Homo sapiens: one gene and its partners. The protein of the gene in region 2 purifies or fractionates together with the protein of the main gene of each other region. This does not show direct contact. Each region holds a gene or a part of one and is shown on either strand. Other genes may lie near its edges. The genes, in order: UBN2, TEAD2, SUPT16H and HOXB13.

Region 1 (7,449 bases), on a different chromosome or scaffold from region 2:
ACCTTTGCAACAAAGATTTGCCACATTTTCCTGTGATTGCTGCCAGTGTATATCCTTATTATGCAAGAAAGCATAGAAAACATATGTTTAAGTAAAATTGTCATGGTTTCATGAAAGGAAATCCTAGAAGAGAGACCATCAAAAAGCAAAATGCGAACATTAGAATTGGTCTGGAAAGTTGGTGGTTCCCAAAATTAGAAGAATTAGAAAAGGAAGGGCTCCACATTTTTGAAATAGCCATCTATCACTAAATAAGATTTTAGCTCCAGATGCTGAAATTGGTAGATGTGGGGCTATTAAAAAAAAACAAACAACAAAAGGTGTGTTACATATGGATACCATTCATGTGGGTGCATTTAAATCAGTTCCCTTCTTAAATACTAAATGAACAGTAAAACCCTGATTTACTGGAACATAATCAGAAATTTTTCTATGCTCTATTTGTATTAATGAGGAAAGCACAATTAAATAATTTATGTTGGGAAAATAGGAAAAACAAAACCACAGGTTAGCTAAACCTTTAACCTTATTGTCTCTAGGCAGTACAGTGCTGTGATTGAGATGGTTTAGGATGATGACTGGCATTGGAATCATCTCTATCCTGAAAGATTAATTTGGTCACCATTTCTGGCTAAAGGGTAATAGTGCATTTTAGAAATAAATTTTGGCAATGATTGATACACAAGAAAAGGTTTAACTCTTAGTAAACCAGAAAAATCAGTTAACCAGAACACCCATTTGTGAACATGCTTAATTGAACATTTACTGTAAAAAGAAAAATAAGTGATTAAGTGTGTTAATGTAACTATACTATTTGAGAATTCCATGGTATTTCATTGTTTGCGTATTTTTGATGAAATTTGTGAAAGACCTCCTGAAAATGGTGTTGATGAGTTAAGATCAAAGGACAAAATTATTGCATCAGTTTTGCATGTGGGTAGTTGATAATTTTCAGATTTTTTTTCACCTGAAAAAACAAAAAAGCTTAATCTTGATTGGGGGAGGGTGTTTATTCTTAACTGTGAAAGAAAAGTGAGTCCATTTTCTTAAATTTGTTTTTGTAGGCTGTCAAGAGAAAATAAGAGCTGTACTTTTGATACCTACATAAAATACATAAAATATTTTAGAATGGCATATAAGGTGATTCTTATTAAAAATATAGATCCATGTGTTTATATTTATACATATAAAATGAGTCATACCATAGTAAGTATTTGGGCTTCACAGTGCAAGAGGGAGCAGTTTGTAATAGGCATGGCGATTGCTTACTGTCCTTAACCTGAGCCTCTGGTTAAGGCTACACCCTGGACATGCCTAGGATTCCTTATTAGTTTATTCTCACTAGTTTATTCCCTTTTGGATCATGTTTATGTTTTTCATTGGTAAATTTTTATTTTTATTTTATTTATTTATTTTTTTGAGATGAAGTCTCACTCTGTCTCAACCAGGTTGGAGTGCAGTGGCGCAATCTCAGCATCTCAGCTCACTTGCAACTTCCACCTCCCAGGTTCAAGCGATTCTCCTGTCTCAGCCTCCCGAGTAGCTGGGACTACAGGCGTGTGCCACCACACCCAGCTAGTTTTTGTATTTTTGGTAGAGACGGGGTTTCACCATGTTGGCTAGCCTGGTCTTGAACTCTTGACCTCAGGTGATCCACCCACCTTGGCCTCCCAAAGTGCTGGGATTACAGGTGTGAGCCACTGCGCCTGGCCTTTCATTGGTAGCTTCTGTTGGGGTGAACTATTCTATAAATTTATTACTTATTACAATAATTTTAAAAATTGATTTTAAAGTTAACTCCTTTAAAGAAGTATCCCTTTATTCTAATGTCCCAAGTGTGAGGAATTGTCTCGTATTCATTCTGTCCACATTTTTCTATCATGTTTTTTAGACCGATCATGTCTCAGTCTTTATATCCAGGATGAAGTGTCTCAGTTTCAAAGTGTGCACATCTTCCTTCTGCATTTTTTCTTGCTCTTCAGGGTCCATTGAATCTGTATCAATATTTCAGTTGTAGTATACCTTCCTTTTTAAATTACCTGAGTCAGTTGTCTGAAATTGGATAAAAGTAGTATTTTTATCCTTGTTTTGGTTTTTTTGTGCATTGAAAACCATATATATGTTTGTATACTAAAATAGAAGACTTAAGGATGTGATCGCTATTTTTGTTTGTTTTGTTAAATAGATGGTTAATGTGAGCTTCTAGCTCTGTGTGTGTGTGTGTGTTAAACCATGTATTATAATAAACTTTCACTCTCCCCTACTAGAAGAAAGGCATGGTAATGTAATCTTTTTGCAGCTATTTCTCTTTTCTAGCTTTGTTTAAAAGTAATGTGTATTCCCTGAATGGATATCCATTGACAGAATATTGGTGATACAATGGTTGTTGATATTGGACCTCAACAGAAAGCCTTAGCCGCTACACACACTCAGTGTTAACTCACAGGCAGATGGTTGAAGTGTTGCTTTTAATTAATAATCTAGAGCTCCTTTTAGAAGCATTTCCTGATCAAAGCAGTTAATCTTTGTTAGTGAAGATATCAATCTAGAATTATAAGTGAGATTTTCATATTTAGCTAGTGTTCCTGGGGATTTTTTTTCTTTGTTATTTTGGATGAGGTGACCATGTGATCATTTTGCAGGTGAAGACAATTTGGATTGTTGAGTTCTTACTCATCAAAACACTGTGAAATGTATATGAGTCCATTATAACTGTAAATTTTTTTTGCTATGAACCAACTTTTTTTTTTTTAGTTTTAATACTTCTGACTTACTTGTTAGTATTAGGAAAAGTTGTCTCGTATTGGTTAAATTTAAGATATAGTCTCTGAGTAATAATATAATTAATTATATAACATGTTATATATTCTCACTAGTTTATTTCCTTTCAGATCACATTTATTGAAATAGAATTGAAGTGGTTGTTACATAATGATAAATAAACAAACAATAATAATATTTGTAATACTAATGGATACTTCTCTTTCTTTTCCCATTCACCTTGAATCAGAAGAAGCTCATTCACACAGAAGACCCATTTAATGATGAACATCAGGAGAGGCAAGAGGTGGAAATGTTGGCTAAGAAGTTTGAAATGAAATATGTGAGTATAATAAACTGATCACTTAGGTAATTTTATCCTATTGACCTGTTTGCTTTCTGTGGCTGGTTGGGAGGGCCTATAAATATCCGTTGCCTGCCTTACTTTGTTCTCACCAATGGAAACCAAATGAATGGTTAGACAGTCAAATAAAGATTCCAACAGGCTTGTGATAGTTAAAGTAGCCATCATTCATTTTTATTTTTATTTATTTATTTTGGAAACAGGGTCTCGCTCTGGTGCCCAGGTTGGAGTGCCGTGGTGCAGTGTTGGCTCACTGCAACCTCCGCCTCCCAGGTTCAAGCCTTTCTCATGCCTCAGCCTCCCAAGTAGCTGTGACTACAGGGGCAACACCACACCCAGCTAATTTTTTGTATTTTTGGTAGAGACGGGGTTTCACCATGTTGGCCAGGCTGGTCGTGAACTCCTGACCTCAAGTGATCCATCCTGCCAAGTAGCCATCATTTATTATAGTCTTTCTAGAGTCTGGGCGGTTTGCTTTACATATATTATCTCCAATCTTTGTAACAAAACCACAAGCTAAGTAATATTGACCATATTTTACAGATGAGGAAACTGAGGCTCTGAGTTCAAGATTAAGTAGCTGATACAGTGTCACACAGTGGCAAGAGTAGGCTACAGGTCCAGGTCTGTGTAGCTCTAACTCTGTTCCCTTTCCGCCACCATCGAGAATGCTATTTTAATTCCTTTGGTATAGTAGTTCTGAAACCTTCCTGCCTCCTAAGAGTTTGAGAGTGAATGTGTGTACTTCTAAGCTCATTGCGTCAGACTCAGAACCAGCATGAGACTTCTTTGAAAGTGTCCGGTTTATGCTAAATATTCATGTACATTTTATATTCAGTGCCACAATATAGTGGTGTTTGTTTGAATACAAAAACAATTTTTAATTACCTGATTAAGTTGCTTAACATTTTTCTCAAATTTTCTAGTATTACTAAATTTGTAGAAAGCCCCACTCCTCACCCCACATTTACACTATGGCTTTGAGTACTCTTGGCACTTTACTAAAACATAACCCAGTTGAGAAGCAACACCTTACCCCTCTGATTCCTCTGTGAGCATTGAAAAGTATCCCACAGGAGAAAGGATATCAGCTCACATTGGCCTTGTCATTGAGGGCCTTGTACCCTCAAGATACAACAGGGATCTTGACCCATATGTGCTGGCTCCTTGTGGTAATTAAGAAACCATTTGAAGGTAGAAGAAGTAGATGAGAATAGATTGGAATTGGAATCAGGTCCTAGGCCATACTTTGCCATCTGCTAATTGTGTCCTTTTGGTGAGGTTTTTTAGCTTTGGGCCACAGTTTTCTTTTTCTCTCTTTTTTTCTAAGACAGAGTCTCTGTCACTCAGGCTGGAGTGCAGTGGTGTGATCTTGGCTCACTGTAACCTCCACCTCCTGGGTTCAAGCAATTCTTCTGCCTCAGCCACCTGAGTAGCTGGGATTACAGGCATGCACCACCATGCCTGGCTAATTTTTGTATTTTTAGTAGAGATGGTTTCACCATGTTGGCCCGGCTGGTCTCGAACTCCTGACCTCAACTGATCTGTCCACCTTGGCCTCCCAAAGAGCTGGGATTACAGGCGTGAGCCATTGGGCCTGGCCAAGGGTACAGTTTTCCTATCTATAAATTGAGAGGTTCAGATTTTTCCGAGACCCTATTGTTCTCTATTCTGTGACTATATAATAATAAATTTAGGGATAGACTGGTGGGTGTTTAAATAGAAGGAATAGCATTGTAGTATTTAATTACAGTGTAATCTTTTGAGACTATATTGTATCATGATGTATAAATTGTAAAATCCTATAGGATGTATAAATCCTAAAATCCTAGCATGTATAAATCCTAAAATACTGTGTTTTTTATACAAGTTATACATTGGTTACACTTAATGTTTTAACCAACTAGTACACTTATGTGGCTCAAAATTCAAAAATTAAAAATCTTCCTTTTATTGTATTGCCCACCCATGGAATCCCACTTCCTAGGCAAGTAACACTCCTGTGGTACTAGAGATACATCTCTATACATACACATCTATTCCTTTCCCACCCCCTTTTTATACATATTATAGAATTGTACACACTTAAGCTCTTTGCTTTTTATTTACTGTATCTTAGTATATTTGGGGGGGTCATATCAGGACAAAGTGCTTTCTCTCCCTTTTTTTTAAGGCTGCATGCTGTTTCATTGCATGGAACTATCACACTGTAACCAGTCCCCAAATGATTTAGGTTGCTTTCAAAAATTTGCCCTTATTAATAGTGCTGCAGTAAATTAGTCTGTAAAATGGCATTTTACACAATTTCAAGTTTATCTCTAGGAGAGATTCCTAGAATCAGACGATTCAGGTCGGAAGATTTATGCATTTATAATTTTAGTATATATTACTAAATTACCAGTTCTACTCCCTCCATCACTATATTAGAGTGTCTTTTTTTTTTTTTTTTTTTTTTTGAGGCAGAGTTTCACTCTTGTTGCCCAGGCTGGAGTGCAATGGCGCTATCTCGGCTCACTGCAACCTCCACTTCCCAGGTTCCAGCAGTTCTCCTGCCTCAACCTCCCAAGTAGCTGGGACTGCAGGCATGCACCACCATGCCCAGCTAATTTTTTGTATTTAGTAGAGATAGGGTTTCACCATGTTGGTCAGGCTGGTCTCGAACTCCTGATCTTAGGTAATCCACCGCCTTGGCCTCCCAAAATGTTGGGATTACAGGCGTGAGCCACTGCGCCCAGCCTAGAGTGTCTATTTTGCTGTGGGTTACAAAATCAAGGATTTTAGAATTGCCCTTTGCAAATGGAAAAATTCCTATATATAATCCTATAAGTAAAGTGATTCAGTATATGACGCACTACCTTAAAGTTAGCATTAAGTCTTCTTAGTCAACCCTAGGATAGTATCTGGCATAGAAAGATCAGCGTTCTGAAGAAGTTGTTTGATGCGTGAAATTGAGTTTCAATTGACTTAGATATATTTAAGCCTTGTTATTTTGTTTACAGTGATAAAATATTACTCTTGTTATAGTCTAAATTAATGGGCTATATTTCTTCTCTGGATTTTTATTTTGCTGACTTACTGTCTTATTTCCATTCTAATTAGAGATTGTATGTATATTAACCAAAAAGCATGCCCAAGTGTTATATCTATGAGTATTGTGTGTGTGTGTATATGTATATATATATTTATTTGGTAGAGACAGGGTCTTGTTGTGTTGCCTAGGCTGGTCTTAAACTCATGAGCCTAAGCAATCCACCTGCCTCAGCCTCCCAAAGTGCTGAGTTTACAGATATGAGCCACTGTACCCAGCCTAAATATATATATATATATATATATATATTTTTTTTTTTAAATAATTATTTGGAATCTTTTAAGAAAATCATCAGGCCAAAAGTGACCTGAGAGAAGATACATTGTCCTGCTGGGCGTTATATGCCTAGAGCTCTAGGCTATCACAAAATCTCTCTCTTAAACTACAATGATCTTTATTGGTGTTTGGGGCAGGTGTTGCAGCAGTTGAAGATCAGTGATATCAGAAATTACAGGGAGTATAAAATTGTAAAAAGAGCACCCTGCATTGAATTTATGGGGTTCCCCCCTCCATTGTGTCCTATTTTTATGGCCATGTTCTGTTTCCTGTTATGTTGTTCTTATGCTCAGGTAATGTGACAGTTCATATTCAGCATCAATTACTAAATGGTTTTTTGGGAAAAGGTCAATATGACTATTAAGTACCTATTTTTACCTAGATTATACTAAATTGGTTGTTGTACATAAATCTTTTTAAATAGCTAAGTCCAAGTTTTGACATTTCTACAACCGTATAGGCTCCAGATTCGTCTTGATGGTTAGAAAGGAGGCAGGATACAGGTAAAAGAGGCTCCCATGCCTCTCTTTATTCCCAGTTAAGGCTCCAAAATGTTTAGGCAAAACATCTTGGTTTCCAATTCAGTTTTTAGATAGTCTGTAGGTAATATATGCCTTTTATGAGGCCACCTATACTCTATACTCAGGAGTAGGATGCTTCAATTTGATGGGTATAGACTTGTTATCTTAGCCTTCTAGGACATAGGATAACCTATAATTGTTGGAAGATTTCTCTTAGTGATTTTTTTCTCACTCCATTACCCCAGCCGTTCTGAAAGATCATACTGTCCTAGAATTGGATATAAATTCACTAATCTAAATGAAAGCACCTAACACAATACCTTGTGCCTAGCAGGGGCTCAGTTAAGACTCTTTGAATCTGAATGACTCTCTGAATAGGAAGACATATATTCTGCCAGGCATTTATTAATAATCATGAAATCACATTATAACTTTAAAAT
Region 2 (7,882 bases):
GAGACAGGAGAATTGCTTGAACCCGGGAGGCAGAGGTTGCAGTGAGCCAAGATCGCGCCACTGCACTCCGGCCTGGGCAACAGAGCTAGACTCCATTTCAAAAAATAAACAAATACATAAATAACCCAGCCTCGGGTAATTCTTTATAGCAATACAAACGGACTAACACACATGCCGAGAAGACAGATGAACGCACAGGAAGCAGCTTCTTCCTTGAACCTGAACCTGCCCATGCGAGGATGACCCTAAGAAGACCGGCCCATCCCAGACAGAAGCCCACAAGTCCATTCCGAGACCTGTTTTCGAGTTCGGGTCTTCCCCGTTCTCAGCTTGATGTAGCGGGCGATCAGTTCATTCCGACCTGAAGATTCAAAGACGGAACAGAGTTAGTTAGACTTTCAACAGAACTTCCCCACAGCATGGACACCAGGGAAGAAGAAAGCAGCATGGGTCCCCAAAGGTCTGCAGCAAGTGGGCTGCCGGTCCCCTCAGCTACGTGGAAGCCAGACTGCTTGGGTTCAAATCCCAGCTCCATCACGCACTGGCTCTGTGCGACCATAAGCAAATCACTTAACCTAGCTGTGCCTCAGTTTCCTCATCTGTGCAAATGGTGATGCTAGCTCCTACTTCAGAGTGCTCCATAAACCTTGGTTACTGTCATTATTCATCAGTGGGGGCCAGGGCAAAAGACAGAAGTAGACTCACCATACATCTTGCCTTCATCAGACAAAATTATTTTCCGGCGGCCGCAGGGTGGATAGATGGCCAGGGCCTCCTGGAAGCTCTGCTCAATGTCTGGGCTCCACACCCCCTCTGCATCCGGGCCCCCGTCACCCCCAGCCCCCTCACTGCCGCCGGTACCCTCCTCACTGCCTTCCTCACTGCCCGTCCAGCCGCTGCCATCGTCCAGGGCGGCCCCAGCCCGGGGTTCCCCCATCTGGGCCTGGAGGAACACAGAACTCAGCAAGCTTCCCCCAAACCCCACCCTCAAGGGACTTGAAGCTGAGAGGGCTGGGACTCTGGACCACTGGGTCTGAGGGAGGAGGGGCTGGGGACCTGGACTCCTGGGTCTGAGGGAAGAGGAGCTGGGGGGTATTCCTGGGTCTGAGGGAGGAGGATCTGGGGCCTGAACTCCTGAGTCTGAGGGAGGAGGGGCTGGGGCCCGGACTCCTAGGACTGAGGGAGGAGGATCTGGGGCCTGGACTCCTGGGTCTGAGGGAGCGGGGGCTGGAGGCCTGGACTCCTGGGTGTGAGGGAGAAGGGGCTGGGGTCTGGACTCCTGAGTCTGAGGGAGGAGAAGGAGCTGGATTTCTTGGAAAGCTGAGGATGGGAGTGTTCTCAGAGTTTCCAGAGGAACTCAATTGTGATGAAGTCACAATGATTACCCTAGAGTAATGCCGAGGGCCATGAAGGCTAAAGGTTCGGGTATGAATTACGGGTTTTAAAGAAGACAGGAGGCAAAAGTTAGTGGTGGGGAAGGAAGGTGTGGGTGAAACTTCCCCTGTCCCACCCCAAGAACAGGTGGTAAGATGTGAGCAGCAGCTGCCAGAAAAGAAGAGGGGCCAAGCAAGACTGAGGGGAGGTCTAGAGAGAGGGGGACAGAGACCCAGAGAGGGAGGGGGACAGAGACCCAGAGAGGGGATGGGGACAGAGACCAGCAAGGGGGGGGGACAGAGACCCAGAGAGAGAAGGGGACAGAGACCAGAGAGAGAGGGGGACAGAGACCAGTGAGGTGGGGATAGAGACCCAGAGACAGAGGGGGACAGAGACCAGAGAGAGAAGGGGACAGAGACCCAGTGAAGGGGGGGACAGAGACCAGTGACGGAGGGGACAGAGACCCAGAGAGAGAGGGGGACAGAGACCAGAGGGAGGGGGGGACAGAGACCAGAGGGAGGGGGGGACAGAGACCAGAGAGGGGGACAGAGACCCAGAGAGAGGGACAGAGACCCAAAAAGAGAGGGAGACAGAGACCCAGGGAGAGGGGGAGACAGAGACCAGAAAGAGGGGGACAGAGACCGGGGGGGGGGGACAGGGACCAGAGAGAGGGGTCCAGAGGCCCAGAGAGGGAGACAGAGACCCAGAGAGAGAGGGTGACAGAGACCCAGAGAGAGGGGGACAGAGACCCAGAGAGAGAGGGACAGAGACCCAGAGAGAGAGGGGACCAGAGACCCAGAGAGAGGGGGACACAGACTCAGAGAGAGGGGGACAGAGGCTCAGAGAGAGGGCAACAGAGACCCAGAGAAAGGGAGACGGAGACCTAGAAAGGGCAGGGACAGAGACTCAGGGCAGCAGCTGAGGCCGAGACCAGGAGAGACCCACAGAACCACAAGCTGGGGGACAGGGGCGCCCTGCCATCAGAAGAGCCAGAACAAAGGGCCCAGGCGTCCCCTCCCCCAGCTTCCCACAACCCCCATCAGGGGAGGGGCTTGCCGGCCAGGGCGACTCCCCTCCGGCACCGGGCCCCGCCCCTCCCCTCCCCCGTGCGCCGTGGGCTCTGATCCAACTCAAGTTCCCAGTGACTTTCCGGAGGCCGGGAACAGGGAAAACTTTTTCCAATACAGTCAGATCCCGCCTCCCCGGAGGCTCCATGTCCTCCACAGCTTTCCCAGGACCCCAGAGTCCAGGCCCCTATTCCCCTCCTCCCGCCGACCATAGCAGACAAAGACCCCAGCCAAGCCCAGTGGCGCTGCGGCGTTCAGGACCCCCGTAGGCCAAAATCCCAGCCCAGCCCTTCCCCATGTGGCCAGACAAAGGGACGGTGGAGCCGGGTAAGAAAGGTCCCCCTAATTTCCCGCCCCAGACCCTAAACCTCCAAAGAGGCAAGACTTAAGATCCAGAAAGCCCCGTAACCTCCCCTCGGCCACCCCAGAGGCCCTCCCTTCTCCGTAAGAAGGACCAAATGCCCCCCAGATTACACAAGGGGTCCTTCTCACTCCAAAGTGACACCGCCGCAGACGCACGCCCCACACCCCGCCAGCGCCCTTGGCCCGCACCCGCTCCTGCGCGCACGCCCAAACTCAGACCCAGCCGCAGGCACCCTAACTCCGGCCAGAGTTCCCACTCCTCACTGAGGCTCGGTCACGGGAGCAAATTCGGGCCCCCGGGCAAAAAGAGGGCTGCGAACCATTCAGAGACGGTCCCGCAAACGCACGCCTCACCTCCTAAGAAGCAACTCCCCACCCCAACTCACACACCCCAAAGCAGGATCCCCGACTCCCGCCGGCGCCTTCCTACCTCCCGGCCTGGGGCTGGGGAGCCGCGGGCGGGCGGGGCGCTGCGAGGGAGAAAGTTGCCGGGAGCTTTGTTTGGGAAAAGTGGGAGGGACCGGAGGGGGGGGCGGGCCCGGCCGGCGGACAGCGGGAAGGGGGATCCGACGGTGACAGTTTGGGGAAGGATTTTTGCTTTGGGAGAGATTAGTCTATCTCGGGGCTGGTAGGAACTCAGGATTTGGGTGCTTGGGAAAGGAGGGGGATTGGGGGTTCGGACTCCAAGTCGGAGGGAAAAGGCTGATAGGAGCCAGAAACCCCTGATCTGAGGGAGGAGAGGCTGGGGGCTGGGACTCCTGGGTCTGGGGGCTGGGACTCCTGGGTCTGGGAGAGGAAGCGGCTGGAGAGAGATATGGGCTCCTAGGTCTGAGAGGGGACGGGGCTAGGCGCCTGGAATCCCGGCTACCCTCGTGTTTGTGTATTGGGGGTGCGGAAGTGATACGAATACAAAGAGTCTTTACTGTTAAGCCCTGAGGTTTTTTTTCTTTTTTTCTGTTTGGTTTTTGGTTTTTTTGTTTTTTGTTTTTTTTGTTTTTTTTTTTTTTTGAGGATTGGGGTCTGGGGATGGGTTTTGACTGATTCCTATGACGACCTGGTTTCCTTGTGACCTCACCACAGTTAAGAGTCGTGGGCAGGACCACCGGGAGTTTATTGGAGGCCCACGTAGGTGCAGATTCCTCATCTACAGGCGCTAGTGGACTGGAGACGGCTGGCGGCTGTCCCGGGACGGGGAAGAGAGCTTTGGTGCCTGAGGGAAGATGGCTTAGGGCCCGGTCCCTTAAGGGTGAAAGGCTGCGTGTTCAAAATTACGGGACTAGAGGGGGCGGGAGTCCGGACCTGAGGTCCTCAGGGAAAAGGAAGTCTGATTCTGGGTTCCTTGGAAGATGAAATATAAGACTGGATTTAGGGTTTCCGGAGACAACGGGACTTTTTAGTGGAGCGGGAGCGGGAAAACCAGAAGGGACACGGAGAAAAGGTTCCGAAACAGATACACAATTAGAGTGAGAGCTAAAAGGGATGCTTGTACTCCGGTGTCTCCAGTAGGAGGAGCCTAGGACTGGAACTTGGGGTGATGAGGGCAAGATCTGGGACGCAGGGGCGTGGTCCAGTGCAGGGGCGTGGCCCAGTGCAGGGGCGTGGCTTTCAGCCAAGGGGCGTGGCCATTGCGATTGGGCGGGACTCCGAAACGAGGGCCGCAATCAGAGAACACCGCCAGGACTTCCAGGACTTGGTCTCCAGGACTGAGGTCAACTGACGTGGGCGTGGTCTGACTGTGTGGGCGTGGCCAGGGAATGAACTCACGGCTCTGGCTTAAGGGGTGTGGTGAACGAAGGATGGGGCGTGGCTGTGTCACCAAGGGCGTGGTCATGGAGTAGAGGCCCGGGCTCCTGGGTGAGGCCGGCAAGTTTGGAGCGTGGTCAGACAATAGGGGCGTGGCTACGGCTCGCGGAGCGCAACCAACGCTCTAGACCAGACCTGGGCTCGAGACCATAACTGTTTGGCTTTAACAGTACGTGGGCGGCCGGAATCCGGGAGTCCGGTGACCCGGGCTGTGGTCTAGCATAAAGGCGGAGCCCAGAAGAAGGGGCGGGGTATGGGAGAAGGTGAGGATTGAGATCTGGTGGTGAACGTGGGCGAAAGTGAGGAAAAGACCATTGGATGAGGCCGGGTGCTGTGGCTTACGCCTGCAATCCCAACACTTTGGGAGGCCCAGGTGGGCGGATCGCTTGAGATCAGGAGTTCGAGACCAGCCTGGGCAATATGTCGAAACCCTGTCTCTACAAAAAATACAAAAATTAGCCGGGCGTGGAGGCGCGCGCCTGTGGTCCCAGCTACTTCGGGGGGCTGAGGTGGGAGAATCACCTGAGCCCGGGGAGGTCGAGGCTGCAGTGAGCCGTGATTGTGCCACTGTACTCCAGCCTGGACTACAGAGTCTCGGTCTCAAAAAAAAAAAAAAAAAAGCATATGAGACAGAACCCAGAAGAGCCAGACCTGGGAGAAGACGGGGCCTGGCAAGGTGGAGGGTGTGGGAGTAGAAGAAAGAAGCAGTGGGGGAAATGAGCGCGGTGTGGGAGTTGCCTGAACTGGGGAGGCGACCTGGGCAAGGTGCTGGAGAGGGGCGTCTTGGGTGGGGGCGTGGCCACTGTGCGGGGCTCTGACCCCGACCCTTGCCACAGCCTCCCCACCTGCCCCCGCAAGGCGGCATCTGCTGGTCCTGCTGCTGCTCCTCTCTACCCTGGTGATCCCCTCCGCTGCAGCTCCTATCCATGATGCTGACGCCCAAGAGAGCTCCTTGGGTCTCACAGGCCTCCAGAGCCTACTCCAAGGCTTCAGCCGACTTTTCCTGAAAGTAAGCGATGGCGGGGGGATGGGGGAAGAAGTACTGAGAAGAGGTTCAGGGACACAGAGTGGGAGATGGTTCAGGGCCAGGCAGGGGGACAGACAGGATGAGAGGGCAACAGGGAGACCAAGAGATAGGAAGAGGGAAGGGACTGGGCCCAGGCTATAATCACAGCACTTTGGGAGGCTGAGGCAGAAGGATCATTGGAGCCCAGTACTTGGAGACCAGCCTGGGTAACATAGTGAGACCCTCATCTGTACAAAAAAATATAAAAAATAGTTGCAGGTACATGCGCCTATAATCCCAGCTGCTTGGGAGGCTGAGGCAGAAGGATCCCTTGAGCCCAGGAGGTCGAGGCTGCAGTAAGCCATGATAGCACCACTGCACTCCAGCCTGGATGACAGAACAAGGAGACCCTGTCTCTAAACAAATAAATATATACGTGCATAAATAAGAGAGGAAAGGTAACAGGCAAAGAGAGAGGAGATGGGACAGAGACAAGAGACTGGGGAAAGAGACAGGAGGAGAGGGGGATGGGGACAGAAGAGGAACAGGGATAGTAAGGCAATGGGACTGAGAATAGAGAGAGAATTCATGGGGGATGGAGGCCGGAGGTTAGGCCCTAAGTATCAGAGGGCAGAAAGTAAAGGGGATGGGAGGGACTTGGGGCAAGGCCTCGGGAGCATCCTAGCAGGGCTGCAGAAGGGGCTGTACTGAGGAGATGTGAGGTCCAGCAGCTCACCAGTCCCTCCTCCGGCCCCAGGGTAACCTGCTTCGGGGCATAGACAGCTTATTCTCTGCCCCCATGGACTTCCGGGGCCTCCCTGGGAACTACCACAAAGAGGAGAACCAGGAGCACCAGCTGGGGAACAACACCCTCTCCAGCCACCTCCAGATCGACAAGGTGCCTATGCAGGGAAGCCCTTCCTGAAGTCCCCTTGGGATCCCTCCATCCCGCCATCCCTCGTGCTGCAGTATCTGTTGGGAGGGAAGGAGGGCGGAGGAGGAAAGCAGGTTTGCTCTCACTCTCTCATCGGATCCTCACAGATGACCGACAACAAGACAGGAGAGGTGCTGATCTCCGAGAATGTGGTGGCATCCATTCAACCAGCGGAGGGGAGCTTCGAGGGTGATTTGAAGGTTAGGACGTGCCCCGCCGTCAAAGTGTCCAGGCCCAAACATTTTCTTTTTTTCTTTTTTAAAGAAGAGTCTCACTCTGTCACCCAGGCTGGAGTGCAGTGGCACGATCTTGGCTCACTGCAACCTCCGCCTCCGAAGTTCAGGCAATTCTCCTGCCTCAAGCTCCTTGGTAGCTGGGATTACAGGCACCTGCCACCACGCCCGGCTAATTTTTTGTATTTTTTTAGTAGAGACAGGGTTTCTCCATGTTGGTCAGGCTGGTCTTGAACTCCTGACCTCAAGTGATCTGCCCATCTTGGCCTTCCAAAGTGCTGGGATTACAGGCATGAGCCACCATGCCTGGTGAGGCCCTAACATTTTCTGTAGTTTAGGAGGACAAGAAGAGGAACTGACCCTCTTACTCCTCTGTGTGGAACTTCCTCCTTCTGAGCCTCAGTTTTGCCATCTCTCAAGTGGGGCAATCCAACTGTCAGAAATGAGATTTTTGACCTCAGAATACATCTGCAAGGGTTTAGTAGACCCTAGAGGGTTTTGTATCAAAGTGGTTTTCTTTTTTTTTTTTAACTACATAATAGTCAATCAAAGTGTTTCTATGAGCACCAAAATGTTTTATAAACCAAGAAGGGTTTTTAATTCTAAGTGCTTGGAAAGCTTCACCCTCATAAACCCCAAATTGTGTTTTTGTCTCAAAGTAAGTGCTCTGCAAACTTCAGAGTATTTTTCAATCTATCCCAAAGTGGTTGGTAAACCTCTCCATTATAAACTCCAAAATGTTTTTGTTGTTATTGTGGTTTTGATTTTTGGGGTTTTTTTTGTTTGTTTTTTTGGTTTTTTTTTTTGAGAATGGAGTCTTGCTCTGTTATCCAGGCTGGAGTACAGTGGCACAATCTCAGCTCACTGCAACCTCCAACTCCCAGACTCAAATGATCCTCCCACCTCAGCCTCCGGAATAGCTGGAACTACAGGCGCGGACCACCACACCCAGCTAATTTTTCTATTTTTAGTAGAGACGGGGTTTCGCCATGTTTCCCAGGCTGGTCTCGAACTCCTGAGCTCAGGCAATCCGCCCGCCTCTGCCTCCCAAAGTACTAGGATTATAGACATGAGCCACCACACCTGGCCCAAAATGTGATTT
Region 3 (7,449 bases), on a different chromosome or scaffold from region 2:
CAGAAACACAAAGGTATCTGTGATGGAAATGGCAGTGATCCAAACTTGGGCCTCCACAGCATGCATGCAAAAATAATTAAACCACCCCTGGTGTCATCATAAATAATGATGCTTGGGAATGGAAACAGTGTACATTTGAAAAAGTGCTGTGCTCCTACTTATTACAGGAACTTTGGAAATCATGTTGGTAACAAATCTTATCTAAAGCAAAACTTCATTTTAGAAAGAGAAATCTGGAGATCTCGTATAAAACATTTGCTGGCCACCATATAACACACCAAAGGAACAAACATGCTTATGAGCCCCTTCTAGATGCCAGGCCTTGTGGCCTTTAGAGGCATTATTTTATTTAATCCTCTTAAATGTTCTTAAGTGAGAGGTGATTTTTTCATCACTTTTTTGTTTTTTGTTTTTCACACGCTGTCGCCCAGGCTGGAGTACAATGGCGCGATCTCGGCTCACTGCAACTTCCGCCTCCCAGGTTCAAGCAATTTTCCTGCCTCGGCCTCTCAAGTAGCTGGGATTACAGGCGCTGGCCACTACGCCTGGCTAATTTTTGTATTTTTAGTAGAGACGGGGTTTCATCATGTTGGTCAGGCTGGTGTCGAACTCCCGACCTCAGGTGATCCACCCACCTCGGCCTCCCAAAGTGCTGGGATTGTGGGCATGAGCCACCGCGCCCAGCCCTTTCATCACTATTTTATAGGAAAGAAGCTGAGTGAAATGAAGTGTCTTGCCCAAGAGCTGACAGCTAGTTAAGTAGAAAGGTATACCTTGAGGTGAAAGTGCAAGACAATAATCATTTCTCCATCACAGGGCTGGAACAAAGCATGCTTAATATTATTGTACAAAATATCCACTTTGTCTCCTCGAACAGATGTGAAGCGGAAGCCTGGGGAAAAGAATGAAGAAATGTCAAGCAGTATAATTAAGTTAGGCCAAAAGGCACTGCAACTCTTCTGGCTGATTTGCACAGGGTCAGAGGAAACACCAACAGCTGTATAGAGCTTTCCTTTCCTTCTGGCCACACAGCAGTGTAAGTAGATTCCTCCCAGCATTTCCTTGTCATACTTTATTAGCACCATGCTTTAACCAACTGAGCTAACCGGCGGATGGCTCTTTGTCATATTTTATTATCTGATCTGTCATTCCTAACAAATGTGCCCTGAAGAGAAAGCCTAGGTACAGGAGAGATCATCCATACCATTGACATGGGCCTCCAGTGAGCCTTGCATCCTCTTTTGGGCAATATTTGGGCGAATGTATAGATCTTTCAGTTTCGGATTACTCCGGTTTAGATTGATCACCAGTGAGTCTTGTTTTACAATCCCCTAAGCAAGAAGAAAATTAATGTGAATTGTCACATATCCTTACAAGTCTCCAAAAAATACATGTCCTTCTTTGTGTAAGAATGTTTTGCCTGTGTTCAGGCTCACCTCCTTCTCTTTCTCTTCAGCTTCTCGAGTTTTATAACGTTTCTGTACTTCTTTAATAATTCGGAAAGCATTCTGAAGGTTCAAGGCTGGTACTGTCTGTTCTCCGGGTGCCTTAATATTTGATGCTCGGTATGTACTGCAGAAAAGCAACAGCATTTATAGACATTTCTTTTTCAGGCCAGGGAAATTGTACTGATTTACTTTATCTTCTAAGCAGCTTAATCTCTACTTTGCTTTTTTTTTTTTTTTTTTTTTTTGAGACAGGGTGTGCCTCTGTCACCCAGGCTGGAGTGCAGTGGCCCAATCTTAGCTCACTGCAACCTTCGCCTCCTGGGTTCAAGCCATCCTCCCACCTCAGCCTTCCAAGTACCTGGGATTACAGGTACACACCACCATGCCCGGCTAGTTTTTGTATTTTTAGCAGATACAGGGTTTTGCCATGTTGACCAGGCTGGTCTTGAACTCCTGGCCTCATGTAATCTGCCTGCCTCTGCCTCCCGAAGTGCTGGGATTACAGGCGTGAGCCACCATGCATGCCCATTCCTTCTTTTTTCATTTTTCAAATCTGGTATAACATCCCCAAATTATCCCATTTCACACCATGAAATCATAGAATCCAATGTGGCACCAGTTTTCTTATTTGAAGATTCTACTGCAATATATGTTTATTACTTTTAACACTTATTTTCATAATTATTTTTTTTTTGAGACAAGGTCTCGTTCTGTTGCTCAGGCTGGATGGAGTACAGGCAAGATCAGGGCTCACTGCAGCCTCAACCTCCCAGGCTCAAGGAATCCTCTCACCTCAGCCTCCACAGTAGCTGGATGACGGGTGCACACCACCACCCCTGGTTAATTATTTTTTAGAAGAGACAAGGTCTCACTATATTACCCAGGCTCAAAATATGTTTAGTAAATATATAGTATCTTCAAGAAGATTCTAAATTGGGATCCATCCTGAAAATAGTACAAAGTCAAGAAGGCGATCCGAAACAAGTACCAATGAGGAAGGCTTTGACATTTACTAGGTAGGGAAAATGTAGCACAGACAATGAAATGTTTCTGAGAGTACCACTCCAGACAAGATGAATCTGGGTATGACTTTTCTTGGGGACTCACATTTCCTTGACAAAAGTCGCTTCAGGGTTAGGAAAGATGTTGCCTTCATTCCTGCCCAGAGCACTGCCTGGGCAATAAAAGTTGATTCGCAAGTAAGTATAATCTCCTTCCACGGACATACTTATATTCTGTTCAAAGGAAAAGCATAAAAAGTAAACAGATTTCTTTCCTAGAGATTAGTAGTTACAGAGATGTTAAAATTAAGTTAGGAGTTACAAATTGACCGCTCTTAACCTTAATCTAAATCTAATAAATTTACATAATTTATCTTTTTAATAACGAAGTATCCTTTTCCCAAAAAAATCTCTGAATTCTCAAAGTACCTTGTACCATGAATACAACTAAAAGTTAAACAATGATTAAACGAAGTTGAAAGAAAGATAGGCAAATTATGTTTCTAGACTAGTTTAGCTTTCTACTAAGTGAAAAAAACTGAAAGAGGAAGGAGAATGACAAGACAAGAGGGATGTCAGTAACTGAACAGAGTCTGAAGGAGTCAAAAGTGGGAGACATGATGAATGCAGATTATTTATGGCAAATACAATTACTATTTTAAGCAACAGTTTGGATGAAACCTGATGCACTGAATGTCAGTACCTTGATTGTGGCAATGTGAAACGGTGTTGCAATGCCAAACACGGGCATTATTACAGTCTCATATTTCTTATCGATGTAGATCTTCATTTCCCGAATATGTGGTTCCTTAGGCATCAGAGATGGGTTTTTATAGGACACATTAGACTTGCGAGCTCTGGAGTGGGATAAAAAAACAACTGAGAAATTTCTGCAGTCCCACAGAACCCTCAGATGATCTCACTGCTCAGTGAAAACTCTTACTTCTGAATCTGCTGTTCTCCCTTTTGTTCAGTCAATCGCCTCTTTGCTTCTTCATTGAGTTGAGCCGCTAGTTCTTTCTGATGTGCTCTTCGCTTCTCTTCTGCAGTCATTTCATTCTGGTGAATGGAAAATCCAATTTATCACAACACGTGAGCCATATGACAGCCGAGATCAATGTAATTTAAAATAGTAAACTTACTCTTGTTCTTTCTGTAAGTAATGCTGCCCGAGAACCTCTTCCCAAAAGGTCCTCTGCCTCATCTTTCTCCTCCTCCTCTTCTTCCTCATCTTCATTCTATGGAAAAAGTCATAATCAAAAAATGAAATTTTAATTATTTTAGCCAATATTATTTAACTTCTTTATATCCTAAACTTCCTATACTACTTATCTATCTTCTTCCTACCTTTAGGAAAATCCCCACATTCTTCACTTTCTTCTTCACAGAAGTGAGAACAGTAGCTGGGCCATCCTAGAATTAAAAGGAGAATGAAGACACATTATTTAAAAGAGGCAATTTCATTTTCTAACCTAGTAAACGGCTGGGCAATGCTTTGAATCTTTTGGACACTAAAATGTTTGACAATGAATAAATATAGTTTTTATCCTTCTAACCTCTAACCTCTCGTCAGGAGCTACAATTTTTTTTCTTTTTCTTTTTTTTGAGACAGAGTTTCACTCTTGTCAACGAGGCTGGAGTGCAATGGCGTGACCTCAGCTCACTGCAACCTCCGCCTCCCGGATTCAAGTGATTCTCCTGCCTCAGCCTCCCGAGTAGCTGGAATTACAGACGCGCACCACCACACCTGGCTAATTTTTGTATTTTTAGTAGGGCCGGGGATTCACCATGTTGGTCAGGCTGGTCTCAAACTCCTGACCTCAGGTGATCCACCTGCCTTGGCCTCCGAAAGTGCTAGGATTACACGCGTGAGCCACTGCGCCCAGCCAAGAGCTACAATTTGGGAGGCAACATTGGGTAATCACTAATACAGGTTTGATTTGAAGCCTGGCTCAGTTGCTTTCTACCTCAGTGACATTTGGCAAGTTACTTAAACTTGTCTGTGCCTTCAATTTATCTGTAAATGGAGGTAATAAGAGTATCTACTTCACAAGGTACTATTTCAATGAATTAATGTAAACTGCTTAGCTTATGATAAAAACACTGAACTATCTGTGCTCACTATTATTAAAAATCAGTTCGCTGAGGGAAAGAAGCCAGTCACAAAAGACCACATAGGGTATGACTGAATTTACATCAACTGCTCAGATATTTAGCAAATCCTTAGAGAGAACGCAGTTTAGTCATTGCCTAGGCCTGAAGAACCAGTGGGGGAAGGGAAGGGGGATGGGGAGTGACTGCTAATAGGTTCAGGGTTCTTTCCTGAGGTGATGAAAATATTTTCAAATTAGATTGTAGTGATGGTTACACAAATGTGAAAATACTAAAAATCACTAAATTGTACATATCAGGTGGGTGAATTGTATAGTATGTGAATTGTAGCTCAATAAAGCTGTTATTAAAAAGAAAAAAGAATAACCGGTTTCATTATTAGTATTAGTTCCTGATATTATCATTATCAAGGTTCAAGCCACAATATGACAATATGATTTAAAGGTTTATATCATTCCCTATACCTGGGCTACAGTCTCTATTCCTAGCTGCATTAGGTTAGGCTGTCACACGGATTCTTCCCCTTAGCTAGCATTTAACAAAGCAAGAAAAAAACCACAGGGTCCACAAACGTGCCTCAGAAGTTAGTTCATGAAGACTCCAAAGTTTAGACACAATACACACCTCATCCACAAGCACTGTGTCACCAATGAACAGGGCATAGGTTTTCTCTTCTGGCTTTTTCCCCTCCTTGTTAGTCAGGTCTGAGAATCCTAAATTGATGCTGAAAACCATTCCTAAAACAGCAAAACAAGGATCAGTCTGTGGCTGTGACAATGTGGAGAGGTGTGAGACATATGCCTAAAAGAAAATAAAGCTAAAGGAAGTAACTCACAAAAGCATTTTCCTATTGTATGTGAAACTTACCTTTCTTCAGTTTGTATTGATTTTTGCTATTGATTACTAGGGAGCCTTCACGGAATTCAATTCCCATCCCAAACCTGAAAAGAAACAGATAAACATCAGCAAAAGGCTAAAGATCTCTAACATGGATCAAGCATAACATATTCATTTCAACTTTCACAATAAGACAGGCAAACATGTTTGAAATGATTTACCCCTGCTGACCGCTCAGTTAGAAAAGAGGATTCAAAGACAGTCTTTGGCCTCTAAACATGCTGTATAATCCCATGGCGAAAAATAATTTCCTAATTGATTATATCGAGCCTTTTTAATTTTAGCTTATTTGCCCACATTTAAACTTTAACCTTCTACCATAAAATCAAGTCAGTAGTACTCCTAGAAACAACATAGAGATTATTAAGGGGTACATTACTAAGACAGTAATTACTAGATTAAAAGGGGCAATTTTTAGTGGAACACTGGTAAACCAGATTCGTAAGACTTGTTATATAGGTATATATTTCCATGAGAGAAGTCTAGAAACTATATACCATAGACTAGTTTTCATCTAAAGAGAATGCCTACATAAAGCTTTGTTTCCCAAAATGTCCTTTGTTCCATTACACGTTATTAGGTATTTCTAGGTGTTCAGTGATAAAATACATTTGAGAAATGTATAAAATACATTTGAGAAATACACTGGATTGAATAAACAAACCAAAACCAAAACCAAAACCAAAACCAAAACAAAAAAAAACCCCCAAAACAAACAAACGGCCAGGCACAGTGGCTCACATCTGTAATCCCAGCACTTTGGGAGATCAAGGTGGGAGGACTGCTTGAGCCCACGAGGTCAAGACCAGCCTGGGCAACATAGCGAGACCCTGTTTCTACAAAAAATAAAAAAATGAGCTGGGTGTGGTGGCACGTGCCTTGGTCCCAGTTATTGGGGGAGCTGAGATGGGAGGATTGCTGGAGCCCAGAAGGTCTAGACTGCAGTGAGGCACGACTGCACCACTGCACTCCAGCCTGGACAGAGTGAGACCCTGTCTCTAAATAAAATATTAGGACATCTCAGAGTACTTAAGTTGCAAATGTGCACGGAGAGAGGAGATATAGTATGTATTGATAATATTTCCTAACATCTGTAATTATATCCTGGAAAACCTATGGGCTGGAACACCACACTGGTCTAGAAAAATCTCTCTTATACACTTGGGAGAACTTAAATCTGTCTCACCTTCTCTGATAACATCATGTGCCTGGCACATAGTATAGTTTGCTAGTCCATAAATGTTGGCTGAATCAATCAATTAGCCTAAAGAAATAAGACTGACCACTGACAGTCTAACTGAAAACTGACTCAAGAATGACAATAGACATCATGGCATACCCTAGGTTTTTGGTAATTTTGTTCAGCAGTTCTGGCTTCTGCTTTTTAACCACGTCCATGACAGCGTTATACACGTCACATATCTTCACACCTAATAACAAGACACAAAGGAGATATTAAAGTATCTTTTAGGAAAAAAACTCAGTAACATTTTAAAATCAAAATTTATGTCCCCTAAAGCAGTGTTTCTCAAAGTGTGAACTAAACAGTCCACTCACTTTTTTTTTTTGAGACAAGGTCTCACTCTGTCACTCAGGCTGGAGTGCAGTAGCATGATTACGGATCACTGCAGCCCTGACCTCCCAGACTCAATGATCCTCCCACCTCAGCCTCCCAAGTAACTGGGACTATAGGCACACACCACTATGCCCAGCTAATTTTTTATTTTTTGTAGAGACATGGTCTGCCATGTTGCCCAGGCTGGTCTCAAACTGGACTCAAGCAATCCTCCCACCTTGGCTTCCCAAAGTGCAGGAATTATAGGTGTAAATCACTCCACCTGGCCCCATTCTTTTTTTTTTGGATGGAGTCTCACTCTGTTGCCCAGGCTGGAGTGCAGTGGCGTGATCCTACTTCACTGCAAGCTCCACCTCCCGGATTCACGCCTTTCTCCTGCGTCAGCTTCCCGAGTAGCTGAGACTACAGGTGCCTG
Region 4 (8,304 bases), on a different chromosome or scaffold from region 2:
TACAGGACATCAGAGAATGAACACAGAGGCAGAGGCCCTCATGTCCCTCTCAGAGTCCCGGCTCTGCAAAGAGCCCGTCTGTCTCCAGCTTCCAGAATTCCGCACTGTGAATCTGTCTACGTGGACTGGGAAAACAGGGTTGGCACCACTCTGCCACTCCGTTTGTGCCTGGGAAGGGCTAAGTATGCAAGGCTACAAACATCTACTTCACTGGGATCCCAAATGCTCAACAAACCATGACCTGCTTTGGTCAGAACCACCAGAAATATTAAGGGAAGACTCAGAGAGTTTGGGGGAGGAAATTAATGGTGAATTACCCAGGCACTTTCTCAAATCTCTTTTTCTCTGGAAGGAAGGACTGACTAGGGGCAGCCTGCTGGCTTCATTTTCACACGACAGAAAAATCATCGTATTAAGGATGGGTGCTTCCAAGACCAGTGGGTACACCCTATGGGGTGGACAAGGAGGGAGGAAGAGACAGCCTCTACAATTGTCCACCTACCCAGCTGTCAGCTGAGAAAAATGCTAAACGGACATCACAGCCACACAACGAATCTGCCCGTTCCCCTCTCCTCAGTCTTCCTGCTGTTACCAGGGTGAGAGGTGTAATGGAAGGGGGTCTGAGAGAAAGCTTCCCTGCAAAGGGATCGCCTTCCAAATTTATTCATAATTAGCTCAATTCATGAAAGCGGTTTCTAAAGTGCTCTACAGAGCTCTAGATAGAAAATATGAGGCTAACGATCATGGCAGCTAGTACTGGTTATCGTGATTATTGCCACTGTCAGGATGAATGATTATGACTGGGCCAGGTTCTTTGGGAACCCTGGTGGAGTGGGCTGTCACATGGGGTTCCGTCTCCCTGCACATACTGGGTACCCAGGCCGCTCCTGAGGAACAGTCCAGCAGCCAGTGGCCTGGGAAGGGTGTTGTCTCTAGGGGCCTCTCAGCAGAGTCCTTGGCCCCAGCCTGGGCTTGGCAGGTTCCTGGTCTCCCCAGGACACCCCCACTTTCGCTCCTCCCACCCAGGCAAGGAGATCTCTTAAGGGGTAGCGCTGTTCTTCACCTTGGCGAGAACCTTCTTCTCTTTGACCCGGCGGTTCTGAAACCAGATGGTAATCTGGCGCTCCGAGAGGCTGGTGGCTGCCGAGATCTTGCGCCTCTTGTCCTTGGTGATGAACTTGTTAGCCGCATACTCCCGCTCCAGCTCCCGCAACTGCCCCTTGCTGTACGGAATGCGTTTCTTGCGGCCGCGACGAAAGGCGCAGGCGTCAGGAGGGTGCTGCCCGCTGGAGTCTGCGCGGCGTGAAAGGGAGGGAGGAAAAGGCATGGTCAGATACCCACCCATGCAGACCCAGGCCTTGCAAGCCCCAAGCTAAGTCATCTCACAGGTGCACACAGGTCACCCTACAGGCGCACGTGCAATCCTGTTCCTCCAAAGCATACCAGGACAGCACCCTGGCTTCCGGCTTGTTCTCTCACCACCGCTCAGCCTTGGCTCCTGAAGGCCACCCTCACCCATCACTGCTCTCACACCCGCGAATCTGCAAACATACCCACACACCACACACAGTCAGGCCTTTGCCCACCATCACATACGTCCAGTCTTCATGCATTTCCAGACTCTTGGCCACTCTTTTAGATTCTACAGGCAAATTCTGGAAACACGTTTCTGCCCCCACTCCCAATACATGCGCATACACACACACACACACACATTAACCCATCCCAGTGCACACACATATGTCACGGCTGCAGGAAACCTAAATTTTTCTTTGGAAATTGGAAAACTCATCTAATAGAAAGTGAGAGGTTGTATTCTCTACAGTACATCCAATACCTTTTTACCCATCTCCCACACCCACTCCCCACGCACCGAATTGAGAGTTATTTAGCTTTTGTGTAGAATTAGTTTGGAATTGTGCTGGGTAGGGACACCCTGATCCCCACTCAACAGCAAAGAGATCTAAACCTCTCAGACATGTTGAAAGGCTGGTCCCAGGGCCTCCTGGAGAAGTGAGGTGGCCTTCAGGCTTCAGATAGCACCCAGCTCAGGCCCCTCACACTGACCTCCATCCAGGCCCTCCAGCTACTCAGACCTCCTTCAGAGTCCTAATAACCAAGGGAGGAGCACCAAGCTCATCCTCACCAGCTCCAAGTCTCCCTCCTCCTCCTCCCAGGGAAATGCCATTGGGACCCACAACCCCAGGCTCAGAGACAAGGGGACCCAGGGTAATAGAGGTACCTGCAAATGCTGCCTTCCAAAAGGGACCTGGTGGGTTCTGTTCTCCCTGGCAACACATCTGGCTGTTCCAGCCACCAGCGAGAGCCCAAGACTGGTAACTGTCCACAGGCAACAGGGAGTCATGTCGCGGTTCTCCAGGAGCACCCAGAGTCTGCACCACAGACACGTCCAGGTAACTGGCCATAGGCTGGTAGGTTCCCGGATATCCCGGATAGAAGGCAAACTCAGTGGGGCGGCTGGGGTACTCTTCCCCGGCCGTGGGAGTCTCCGCGGGGTACGCGGCCAGGGTGGCTGCCTGGGCACAGGGTTTCAGCGAGCTCCGGGACACTCGGCAGGAGTAGTACCCGCCTCCAAAGTAACCATAAGGCACGGGAGCTGGGGACGTCCCCTGGGGCACCCCAGGGCATGGGTGGCATTGCTTTGGCGGCTCCGCCGAGCCTGGCAGATCCAAGGGGGCATAGTTGACAGCAGGCATCAGCGTAGGCGCCGCTGGGTGGCTGGTCAGAGGGGAGTGGGCGACCAGATTCCGCCCCCCTCCCGCTCCCAGCAAGCCTTCGATATCCTTGGCTCCATCCAAGGTGGCATAATTGCCGGGCTCCATGGAGCCGAGGGTCGGCTCATGAGGTGCGGGGGCGGGGAATCTAGGGGGCACCCAGCTCGCTCTCCCCACCCAGGCCGGGGGAATCCAAAGCGTTTTAAATCGCTCCCAGCTCGCAAGTCGCCTGCATTCGCTCAGCACGGCCGTCTTGACGCAAGAGACGCAGGGGCCCGGGCACGCGCGCTGATTGGCTGCGGCCTGGGGGAGAGAAGCTAATAAAATCCTAAAGGCAGAAACTGCGAAAATACTTTACCCCAGCTTATTCTCTCTCTCTCTCTCTCTCTTTCTCTCTCTCTCTCTCTCTCTCTCTCTCTCTGTCTCTGTCTCTCTCTCTCGCTCTCTCGCTCTTTCTCTCCTCTCTCTCTTCTCCCTCTCTCTCTTCTTTTCCCTCTCCACTCCTCTCTCTCTCATTCCACTTAAAAACAACAAGAGAGAAAAGGAAGGAGGTGTCCTTTCGCTGCTTTCCAGTTTGCAGAGTCTCATTTACACGTCCGGGGGGAGGGGAGGCGTGGTGGGCGGAGGAAGAGGGGACGAGGAGCCGGGCCCCACCTCCTTCTCCTCCTCTCCCTCCCTAGCTTTCTGTCTCCTGCGCTTTGACAGGTTTAACGAGAGAATAAAAAGCTCTCTCTATAAAGTGTCCATCTCCTGGGGGGGAAGGGGAGTCGGGGGTGGGGCTGGGAGGCCGCTCCCGGCCTCAGAGGAGAACCCGGGAATGCGCCTGTGTAAGAGGAGGCTGGGAAATGGGGGTTAATAGGTATTTCTGGCAGCCCCTGGCTTTGGGTCCTGGGTACTAGCACCCCAGTTCATTCCCGGTACCCTTCCTGTCCCAGATGTCCTGGAATGAGCTGCTCCGGGCCCCAGGGAGGTGCCCTGGACGCCCCTTACCCAGGGACTCGCTACTGCCCAGAATGCTCTGGAGGCCCTGATTCGGGTGAGGCTGAGGGAAGAGGCGGGAGACACGAACGTAGACGTAGAAGACATGCGATCTGGATGGAACCCAGGACACTCCACTTCCGGACCTGAAGGGGAAATGGAGCCTCTAGAGTGGCCTGTGGAAGGGTCTGGATTTCCCTTTAAGTAAAGACATACGGAGGGACGGAGACCCACAGGACTTGAGGGAGGGACGGGGAGAGGGAGAGATGAGACTCAGGGACAGCAACACAAAGAGGGAAAGAGAGAAGCTGACAGAGCGGATGGGACAAAATCTTGTAAAATCCTGAAGTGTCAGTCAGAAAAGAGAAAGAAGAGAGGCACTTTCCCCCTTTTTTGGGATCTAAAGAAGTCTGAGGAAGCCAAGCCTGGCTGACTGCCAGAAACCAGCTGCGGGAGTTCTGGACCCCAAGAATACAGACGCCTGTGTGGAGATGCCAGTCTCCCTGCCCTGCAGTCCTCTCCCTATGGTCTGCAAGGGGCCCAGGAAACTGTCCCTGATACTGGCATACTCCCACACAAGCTGAGTACCCAGAAAGCCCAAGACCCCTATCTGCCTCCTGCAAGCTTTAAACTTCCTTACAAGGAAAAGGGAATGGAAGGGGAAACCCCAGCCACTGGCAGAATTGCTTGAGGCCCCTCTGTTGGGGCCTAATGTGCAGTGCAATTCAGAAGAATCAAACGGTTTGTTTCACAAATCTGTCTTTAGAGGTTTTCCGCTTCCTTTACTACCCCTCCCAAATCAAATCCTTCTGTCTGCTTTTTCTAGAACTCCCAGTTTTTCTGGAGAAGACAGGAATGTTTCCATTCTACACGAGGGTCTTGACAATTATATGGAATGGCTTACCCTAAACTCTGGGCAGACTCAATCATAGCCTCTCACCAACCTGACCTTGAACTTGAGCCACTTTGTGGGAAAGGGCCCACAGGCAGTAGTGTACATCACTCCTAATGAGCATTGCTATAATTGAAGACACCAAGCACGAAATCTTCACTAGATCGCATTTGAAAACAATATGGAAGAAAAGGGAGGAGATGTCTCTTCAGTGCTTTCCAGTTTCTCACCAGAGTTTCTTGCTTGTCTAATTATGAACTGCAGAAATATCCAGACTTTTACCTAAAGACTAAGAATTTTTCACCAATTTTTACTTGGTAGATGATAGATATGTAGGGCATGTCCACAGTTTTAGTTTCCACTAGGCAAACACCCACACATGCACATTTATTCATCCTTGTACAGTAGAGGCATTAATAGATCCCTAAATTTAAAAAATAATAATAGTCATAGTCATGCCCTATGACCCAGCAATTCCATTCCTGGGCATAAACCCAACAGAAATGAACCTTTATATCCATCAAAAGTCATGTACTAGTAGGTCCACAGCAGCTTTATCTGTAGTTGCTCAAAGCCACCCATGGCAGCGCACGCCTGTAATCCTAGCTACTAATCCTAGTGGAGGTGGGAAGATCGCTTGAGCCCCGGTGTTCAAGACTAGCCTGGGGCCAGGCACAGTGGCTCAGGTCTGTAATCCCAGCACTTTGGGAGGCCAAGGCAGGTGGATCACTTGAGGTCAGGAGTTCGAGACCAGACTGGCTAACATGGTGAAACTCTCTCTATACTAAAACTACAAAAAAAAAAAAAAAAAAAGCCAATTGTGGTGGTGGACACCTATAACCCCAGCTACTCAGGAGGCTGAGGCAGGAGAATCGCTTGAATTTGGAAGGCAGAGTTTGCAGTGAGCCGAGATCGTGCCACTGCACTCCAGCCTGGGTGACAGAGCAAGACTCCATCTCAAAAAAAAAAAAAAAAAAAAAAAAAAAAAAAAAAACCAGCCTGGGCAACAGGGGTAATAGGGATAATAGGGATACCCCATCTCATAATGAAATCAAAATATAGTAGCTCAAAACTAGAAACAACCCAAAAGTCTATCAGCAGTAGCATGAATAAAGAAAGCACAGTATAATTATACAATGAAGTACTACACAGCCATTTGAAAAAGAATAAACCACTACTACACACAACATTGATGAATCACAGATATGTGGATGAAAGAAGCCAGACACAAAAGAGTAACTTTTGTATGATTCAGTTTCTACATTTCTATGCAGTTCAATGACAAGCAAAATTATGGTATAGTGATAGAGGTCAGAATAGAGATTGGCATGGGGAGAGGTCTCCTGACTGGAAAAGGACATAAAGAAGCCTTCTGGGGTGCTGGAAATAGTCTCCATCTCAATCTGTCTGCTAGTTACAAGACTTTGTTCACTGTGAAAATTCATCAAGCTATACACTTGGTATTTCTGCACTTTATTGCATATCAGCTATATCTCAAATGTTAAGGAAAATAATTAAAAACAAAAATTTTTTTAATTCATTGCAACACTTCCTGAAACTGTGCTTTTGGATGTATAGCATTCTTATCCATGTTCATTGAAATAAGTAGCCAAGTGCATGTAACTGCAGTGTTGTGGAATGCAGAGATGGTTAACTTAAACTTGGCGGGAGTGAAGGTCACCAGCTGTGCTGGAGACCCTCCTGTAAATGGATACATTTCAATACAAATAAATTCTATAGTGCTTGTTTTATTTGCTTTACAATTTATTTAGCATCTGCTAGATCCCAGGGAACAGTTCTGGATCTCATTTTTCTTTCATTTCATTTCATTTATTTTGAGACAGAGTCTCACTCTGTCACCCAGGCTGGAGTGCAATTGTACAATCTCAGCTCACTGCAACCTCCGCCTCCCAGGTTCAAGTGATTCTCATGCCTCAGCCTCCTGAGTAGCTGGGATTACAGGTGTGTGCCACTATGGCCCAGCTAATTTTCTATATTTTTAGTAGAGACAGGGTTTTGCTGTGTTGGTCAGACTGGTTTCGAACTCCTGGCCTCAAGTGATCCCCCTGTCTTGGCCTCCCAATGCGCTGGGATTACAGGCATGAGCCACCACACCCAGCTTTGGATCTCATATTTATTAACACTTGGGTATGTGCCCCTATTTCCTGTACATAGGTATGTGTGTGCATCTGCCCATGACCTATCATAGATCTCAACCGGCATCAGGTAAAGTAAGATTAAGTCTCCTTATCTGTAAAATATGGATAATAATTCTTTCCTCACATACTGTGATGATATAATGAGATTTTGCACATAAAAGCATTTCACAATCTGAATAAATATGAGCTCTATTTGTATTCCTCCATGTGTTTCTGTTTCTAATGAATTACAAGCAACCTGCTTTTACCTGAAAAGGACAGTTGCCCTAAAGAGTGTCAGTCACTTCTCACTTGCCCCCTCAGCCCTGCGTAAGCTACATAGTTCTCGCATCGGGAAACTGAGGCTCAGAGCCTCCAAGTCCTCCCTGGGGCTCTACATGGGTTCAGCGGGGAAGTCCCTGCACAACCCAGGCGTCCTGATCTTCCAGACTGACTGGGCTGAGCCTGGCCTTCCCCTAACCCCACAGATGCCTTTGTGTCCTGCTGGGAGCCTCCTGGCAGACCCTCCGGGAGCCCGGAGCCTCCCCCAGCTTTCTTTACTGACCCAGCCAAAAGCGCTGAAAGCCTCAGCGTGCTCCTTTACATACCCGCCAGACACCTCCAGGAAGGTAAAGGCCAAGTTGAAAGTTAAGAGTCTGTTTACCTCCAGGAGCCCATTCAGCTCGGCCCCACAGACAGCCTGTGACCTTTACAGCCCGGCCTTTGAGCGCGGCCGCCGCGCCCCCGGGGGTTCCGGCAACGGGGACTTGGCACCTCGGTGTCAGCTCCCGCCCCCACCCAGGCTAGGGACCCGCCAACGAGGGGTGGGGGCGGGAGGCGCCCACCCGTCGCACTAGTGGGCATTTGCTAAACTACGTTTTATTTTTTTGTAAAGTGAGCGCCCGCTGCCTTCGTTCTCCCAACTGGAGCAAACTCTGTGGCGGCGACGATGGCGGCCGTCAGGTCGGTGGTGATGAATAGAGAGGATTTCTCTGCAGCGCGACGCTCCCCTCTCCCGAAAGGTTGGCTCCACGGTCCCGCCGGCCGCGCAGGTCTGGCTGAACTGCTTGGGGTCGCCCGGCTCCTCTCGATTTTATGAAAATGGCCTAATTGAGGTGTGCTCTTTTCTTTCCTTCCTCTTTTCATCTTTTCCTTCCGTCTGCATTTTCTCTCCTCTGTCTTAGGCTTGGTATCTTCTTTTCTTTTTATATTTGTGTTTTTCTCACCGCCTTTGCTTCCTTCCATTTCAGTTATCTTGCTTTTTGTGTGTTCTTTCTTGATTTCTTTCTTTCCTTTTCTTGTTATTGCTCACTCTCTGGCTCCGCCACCCACCCCTTGCTCTATCTTCATTTTCCCTTTAGTACTTTTCTCCCTATCTTTCATCTCACTTACACTATTTTTCTCTTTGTTTGCTTTTTCTTCCTCATTTTTCCTTCTTCAGTTTTCTCATTTTTCCTTCCTCCTTCCTTTTTTTTCCTCTCTCTTCTCTATTTCTTTTTTCTTTCTCTCATCTCCGTTTTACTTCCCTTCCTCCGCCCGCCACACACGTTTTTCCTTTGCA

The links.
Region 1: the proteins of TEAD2 (region 2) and UBN2 purify together in Homo sapiens (affinity purification with mass spectrometry; 2 studies listed by BioGRID and IntAct, with this or other methods). This does not show direct contact.
Region 3: the proteins of TEAD2 (region 2) and SUPT16H purify together in Homo sapiens (affinity purification with mass spectrometry; 2 studies listed by BioGRID and IntAct, with this or other methods). This does not show direct contact.
Region 4: the proteins of TEAD2 (region 2) and HOXB13 purify together in Homo sapiens (affinity purification with mass spectrometry; 2 studies listed by BioGRID and IntAct, with this or other methods). This does not show direct contact.

Annotation. Positions count from the first base shown.
Region 1 is NC_000007.14:139,233,995-139,241,443, forward strand, and holds part of UBN2 (ubinuclein-2), read left to right. Parts: intron 1-3,010; coding exon 3,011-3,103; intron 3,104-7,449.
Region 2 is NC_000019.10:49,359,139-49,367,020, forward strand, and holds the start of TEAD2 (transcriptional enhancer factor TEF-4), read right to left. Parts: upstream 3,279-7,882; 5' UTR 3,195-3,278; exon of another isoform or gene 3,159-3,194; intron 2,769-3,158; coding exon of another isoform or gene 2,738-2,768; exon of another isoform or gene 2,652-2,737; intron 2,380-2,651; exon of another isoform or gene 1,426-2,379; coding exon of another isoform or gene 1,395-1,425; exon of another isoform or gene 944-1,394; 5' UTR 938-943; coding exon 706-937; intron 362-705; coding exon 297-361; intron 1-296. Other genes in the region: DKKL1 (dickkopf-like protein 1), read left to right, coding at 4,926-4,980, 5,444-5,616, 6,371-6,511, 6,655-6,747. UniProt on the Homo sapiens protein: Transcription factor which plays a key role in the Hippo signaling pathway, a pathway involved in organ size control and tumor suppression by restricting proliferation and promoting apoptosis.
Region 3 is NC_000014.9:21,359,642-21,367,090, forward strand, and holds part of SUPT16H (FACT complex subunit SPT16), read right to left. Parts: intron 6,889-7,449; coding exon 6,798-6,888; intron 5,503-6,797; coding exon 5,429-5,502; intron 5,299-5,428; coding exon 5,186-5,298; intron 3,863-5,185; coding exon 3,797-3,862; intron 3,688-3,796; coding exon 3,592-3,687; intron 3,509-3,591; coding exon 3,393-3,508; intron 3,307-3,392; coding exon 3,153-3,306; intron 2,684-3,152; coding exon 2,556-2,683; intron 1,573-2,555; coding exon 1,437-1,572; intron 1,332-1,436; coding exon 1,205-1,331; intron 893-1,204; coding exon 774-892; intron 1-773. UniProt on the Homo sapiens protein: Component of the FACT complex, a general chromatin factor that acts to reorganize nucleosomes. The FACT complex is involved in multiple processes that require DNA as a template such as mRNA elongation, DNA replication and DNA repair.
Region 4 is NC_000017.11:48,725,751-48,734,054, forward strand, and holds the start of HOXB13 (homeobox protein Hox-B13), read right to left. Parts: upstream 3,001-8,304; 5' UTR 2,844-3,000; coding exon 2,243-2,843; intron 1,294-2,242; coding exon 1,040-1,293; 3' UTR 1-1,039. UniProt on the Homo sapiens protein: Sequence-specific transcription factor which is part of a developmental regulatory system that provides cells with specific positional identities on the anterior-posterior axis. Binds preferentially to methylated DNA.